Linked DNA regions of Homo sapiens: region 2 is linked to region 1. A link means that fine-mapping ties the variant in region 1 to the expression of a gene that starts in the linked region. Tissue or cell type: blood mononuclear cells. Region 1 holds a variant in brackets; the other region holds the start of a gene. All regions are shown on one strand. Distances are between the middles of the regions.

Region 1 (2,680 bases):
AATCTCTTCTCAATATATAATGTTCTTTGTCTCTTGTAACCTTGGACAAGATACAGACTACTTAGACTATTGAAAATCCTGACAGTGTATTTGAAACATGCACGTGGACATGGTTTTATTTTTCTCAGTTACTGCTTTCAACTGTGTGCTGATTGAAACTCCTTTCCCCTGGATAGAAGACCTATTAAAATAACCCAACTTTATTCACTAACTTGTCAACTACTTTTGGTCAGTCAGAATTTTGTCTTTGGCCAGAGTTAATCAGCTAACCCGTTGTCCCCAGATCATCAGTGCAGCTTCACCTGGGTACTTCTTATAAATGCAAATTCTCAGGCCCTGCCCCAGAAACTCTGGAGGTGGCCCTGCAGTCTGTGTTTAAGAAGCCCTCCAGGGGATCCTCAGGTGTGATAAACTTTGAGAATCAGCGGTAACCCATCTGCAGAGGTATTTCTATTATTTCAGTAATTATATTTTTAAAATTTTACTTTCTGGAAATACTTTTTAAAATTTACCTATTTTTTCATGTATCTTGATTCTTTTTTTCTGTTTTTATTTCTCATTTTAGGTCTTTAGTAATTTTAAGCCAATTTATCTTGTAGGCTCTGTTTTGATCATTCTACTGGCTTTCCATCCCTGAAGTTTATTGACTTGGAGTTGCCAGTGTTTTGTAATTTGGGATTGTGAGCTGGTCTTAATGGGGACTTCATCTATTGGAATCTTCTGTACCTTACATGAGAGTGGGTGCCTCCAGAGTGCTTTTGGGTTTGCTTCAGCCAGGTGCTTGGCGTTATCACCAGCCCAGGACTGCTTTGCATACCAATGTTTTGACCTGGGGATTTTCTGGCCCATGCATGTCATATACAGCCTAATCCCATCACATGAGTATGGGCCTGTGATGACAAATTGATAGGAGAATCATTTTCCCTACTCAGAGCCCAGGCCAGGTCTAATATCCCTGACATAACTGCCAGTGGGGGAACTTTCTCTAGATGATGATTACTGAGAGTGCATCCTGCCCTTGAAGGACCCCTCATTTATGAGTGTTGTGGGGCAGGTCCAAGGCTTCCTCTCCAATTCCTCACAGCATTAAAACCCAAGTCCCTAGGCCAGGGATGGTGGCACACGCCTGTAATCCTGGCACTTTGGGAGGCCAAGTTGGGTGGATCACATGAGGCCAGGAGTTCAAGACCAGCCTGGTCAACATGGCAAAACCCCATTTCTACTAAAAATAAATATAAAAACTAGCCAGGCATAGTGATGCACATCTGTAATCCCAGCTACTCGGGAGGCTGAAGCATGAGAATCACTTGAACCCGGGAGGTGGAGGTTGCAGTGAGCTGAGATTGTGCCACTGCACTCCAACCTGGGTGGCAGAGTGAGACTCTGTCTCGAAAAGCAAAACAAAACAA[T/C]CCAAGCCCCTGAGTTAGTGAGAGGATGCCAGCCCTGGTGGGTGGGGAGATCATGAAGTTGTATACCTAATTGTTGGTTCCCAGTTCATCTTTTGGCCTTTACTTTCTGTTGAACTCTGCATTTAGAGTCTGTTCTATTGCACCAAGCAATTCTGAGCATATTGCGGTGGGTGTTGCCTTTCAGGTTACCTAGTTTCTCATATTGCTGTAAATAGAAGTCCCCTGATAGCTCATTTTGAAACGTCAATCTCTCTTCCCTTCTCCACCTAGTGCAGGCTAAACCTAGTGTTTCCATAGATGGAGAGTGGGGTAGGGGCAGTTGCACATGACTCTCCTGCTTCTTGGCACTTGCTGTTCTAATGTTGGGGTCAGGAAGAGGGGCTGGCAAGGCATGACTGTGGTGAGCTCTCCTCTTGCTTTTCGGGTGGTAACTGCTGGTCCAGCTTATTGTCCACAGCTCTGCATAGGTAGGAGGTGACCAGAAACCCTAGGCATGATGAGGTTCAGCTGCCCCTGTGGACCCCCAGATGGTGGCCTCATGGTGCGTTCTGGTGCACAGGCCTTCTGCTCCATGACGTGACCCCGTAGCCCCGGTCTCCTCTGCCGTTCAGGGCCTTCAGCCTGGGCCCTAGACACGCATGCCACATCCATCTTCTCCCCTCTTGGAACCCGAGGACTCAAAGCTCTACTGGCATCCCCTCTCCTCTGTCCTCATTTCCTGTTTCCCTGGCTACAGGAACACCTGACGATGCCCATTTGCAGCAAACCAACCATGGCTCAGAATTCCTCCAAGCTCAGTCATGCTCTGAGGGCATGTGAAAAGAATGCCCTGCAGAGGAGGAGAGATTTGTTTGTGGCCTTGATGTCATTTGAGATTCTGAGTGTCCAACTGGGGAAATCAACGTTTCCAGGTGGAAACAAAGGGGGCTGCAGAAAGCTGCCCACCCAAGCCAAGGGTCCCTGTTTTGCTGAGTCTAGCGAGGGACTTCCTGTCCCCACTGCTCCACTCCCTCCTCCAGCCCAACTCTCCCTGAGGCAGATGGCAGCAGAGAGAGGAGCAGGGGTTTCCAGGTCAGGCGAGAGTCCTCAGTGGGAGCCTGCTGGGAGGTGGTTTTCTGCCTGAAAGCAGAAGTGGTGGTGTGACAGTCCGTGGACACCAGAGTAGGGACAGAAAAATTGTCTCAGACCCCATCTACAATAAAAATGTATACAAAGGCCTCCCATCCTAGGGGCAGGTATGTGCCTAGAAAGTACCCCTTCTGGCTCTGCCA
Region 2 (2,680 bases), 410 kb after region 1:
CCCGTGACATACACTTTGACACGGCGGTGCAGATGCAGTGTTCTCTACATTGGGGCCAAGGCGCCTCTGTCCAGGGCCCTGACAGTTTCATCCCTGCCAGATCTGCGCTCCCTAGAGCGGGCGGCGTATACCCCACGCAACCCCAGCTCCGCGCGGGTTCCACGGGCTGCAGAGGCGCTGGACTGGGATGCTGCCCCTCCCACCCCCTTTGCCTATAGAGGGTACCGAAGGCCGGGGTGGGGGATGGGGAGAGGTGGAAAGGCAGGGGGTTCCCTCCGGTTCCCCTGGAGGCTGGACTTCCAGCAGAGGCGCCCCACCCCCACCCTCCACGGCGACCACTCTGCGTCGCAACAGACCGGACGGGCCGACCCGGAGGTGGCGCGGGCAGTACCAGGCCGCCGGCGGCGCCGCAGGCGCTGAGCGAGACGAGGGAGCCGGGGTGGCCGAGCACACGGCCCGAGTAGAAGCACAGCTCGGCGGGGCGGCCGCGGCGCCGGGCCGCGCCCGCCTCCTCCACCTCGAAGCCTCGGGACAGGAAGCGCAGGTCGCGGCGCAGCTGAAGGTACAGGTCGCGCCCGAAGGCCGGCAGGTGCAGCAGCAGGGCGCGCTCTCCGGGCCGGGCGCGCGGGGCGGCTGGGGGCGTGCGGGGGCGTCGCCGCCGTCGGGGCCCGGGGGCTGCGGGCAGCGGCGGCAGGTGCACGTCGTCGGGGCGCACCCGCCACGGGAGCACCACCTCCACGTCGGCCGCCGCGTCGCCGACAGCTGCGGGGAGAGAGGAGACGCGTCAGCGCGGCGGGGCCCGCCCGGACGCCCGCCCTCCCGCTGGCCGCCAGCCGCGCCAGCGCGGGGACAGCGCGACCCGGAGCCGGCGCTGCCTTCCCTTCCCTCGCCCGGCACCTCCACGCTGGCCCGCGCCACCCGGGGAGGGTCTCCGGCGCAGCCGCGCGAGCACCTCCCGGAACGGCGCCGCGCATCGGCGAGCGGAGACCCGGCGGCGGCGCGCCTGCCACGGAGCCACCCGATTCCCGTACTCCGGCCGCGGCCCGCGCCTCCTCCGCTCGGGCGCCGTCAGCGGTCCCGCCGCCGCCCCCGGGCCGCCAGGACGCCGCGAGAACGCAGAGGGAAGGTAGCCGCAGGACGCGGGGTGAAGAGGGCTGTGGGAGGGGGCGCTACCTGTGCCCGGGTCCAGTCCCCAAACCAGCAGCAGCAGCACGGGCAGGACGAGCGGAGGCAGCAGGGCGCCGTCACACATGGTACCCGGGACCGGCAGCCCCCCCGGACCGTGGCGGCGAAGCAGGAGCGCGCTAGGCGGCGGCGCCAGCCGGAGTGAAGCCCTCCAGCCTTTGGAAAAAGTAATTAGCGCTGCGGACAAACCCAACGTGGTAAACCCCAAGCCCCGCCTTCCCCTCGGAAGGCGGGAGGGGATTGGGCCCTCGCTTTCCTCCGCCCCGCCTCCTCCTTCCCTACTGGTTGGGATGGGTCGAAACCACAGTGCGTAGTTAGGTTGTCAGCGCTTTCTTACACGTGGTTTCTGGGCAGTGGCGGGGACACGGCACCAGGTGGCGCGCGGGAGCCGACCGGAGCCGTGGGACCCTGGAAGAGCTGGAGGATGCGGGGCTGGTCTTCAGAGCTTGTCCTCATTTTGGAACTCTCTCAGCCTGCTGCCCAGTTTCCCGGGAAGGTAGGGCGGAAATCGCCCCGGCCAAGCGGTTTCATCCAAAACTGCATATAATCTTTACATCTGAAGTTAGGTTTTAGTTGTTTGTGGCCGCAAAGACTCCCAGTCCACTTTCCCGCACACCTGAGTTAGCACCTGAAGGCTATATCCGCGGCGTTTATCCAAACTCTTCACACCTCCTGTCTTCTTTAATCCCACAGGAGCCAGTGCAACACGCATGCTCACACCCTCTTACAGACTGAAAAACTGAGGAAGAGAGAGAGCTTAAGGAAAAACGCTGAAGTTACCCAGAGAGTTCCTGTTGGAGCAGAGGCTAGAATTTGTGATCCTGATTTCTGGCTTGGTGCTTCTTATTAACAGCAGGATCCCCCCGCCCCGAGGGAAGCAGGACTCAGTGTTACAGGTTAGGAAACGGAGGCACAAAGTCCCAAAGCCTAGCCTTGAACGTGAGTCTCCCAGAAACAGAATGAGTTGATCCTTTCCTGCCACAATATAACTGAGGTCTGCAGGGAAGGTGACTCCATTAGCTTGCTGAATAGCATCTTGTAGAGGCTCATGCCTGTAATCCCAGCACTTTGGGAGGCCAAGGCGGGCGGGTCACGAAGTCAGGGGTTCCAGACTAGCCTGGCCAATATGGTGAAACCCTGTCTCTACTAAAAATACAAAAATTAGCCAGGCGTGATGGCGCACACCTGTAGTCCCAGCTACTCGGGAGGCTAAGGCAGAAGAATCGCTTGAACCCGGGGGGTGGAGGTTGCAGTGAGCCGAGATTGTGCCACTGCACTCCAGCCTGGGCAACAGAGCAAGACTCCATCTCAAAAAAACAAAACAAAACCAAACAAAACAAAAAAAACAATTAAGTGTAACCATAACCAATCTCAGGTTTCCCGTCCCTTCCCTGTCCTGCTCTTTTCCATTTTATCATAGCAGAAAGGTTATAGTTCCCCGCTGGATGCTGCTTGAAGCCTCGGAATCTAAATTCATCACAGGATTACATATCAT

Evidence for each region. PIP is the estimated chance that this variant, and not a neighbour inherited with it, causes the effect.
Region 2: it holds the start of ADAMTS17, and the variant in region 1 is fine-mapped to the expression of ADAMTS17 in blood mononuclear cells (TOPMed, PIP 0.93).

The regions. Positions count from the first base shown.
Region 1 is chr15:99,929,974-99,932,653 of GRCh38, forward strand. No RefSeq gene overlaps it. Among named protein-coding and RNA genes, the nearest start is that of LYSMD4, 200 kb to the left of the region's middle. The variant T/C (reference allele first, on the strand shown) is at 1,410.
Region 2 is chr15:100,340,648-100,343,327 of GRCh38, forward strand. ADAMTS17 (ADAM metallopeptidase with thrombospondin type 1 motif 17) reads right to left here and starts at 1,328. Exons shown (of 22, transcript NM_139057.4): 1 at 1,174-1,328; 2 at 392-762. The coding sequence starts at 1,252. RefSeq lists an enhancer at 1-180.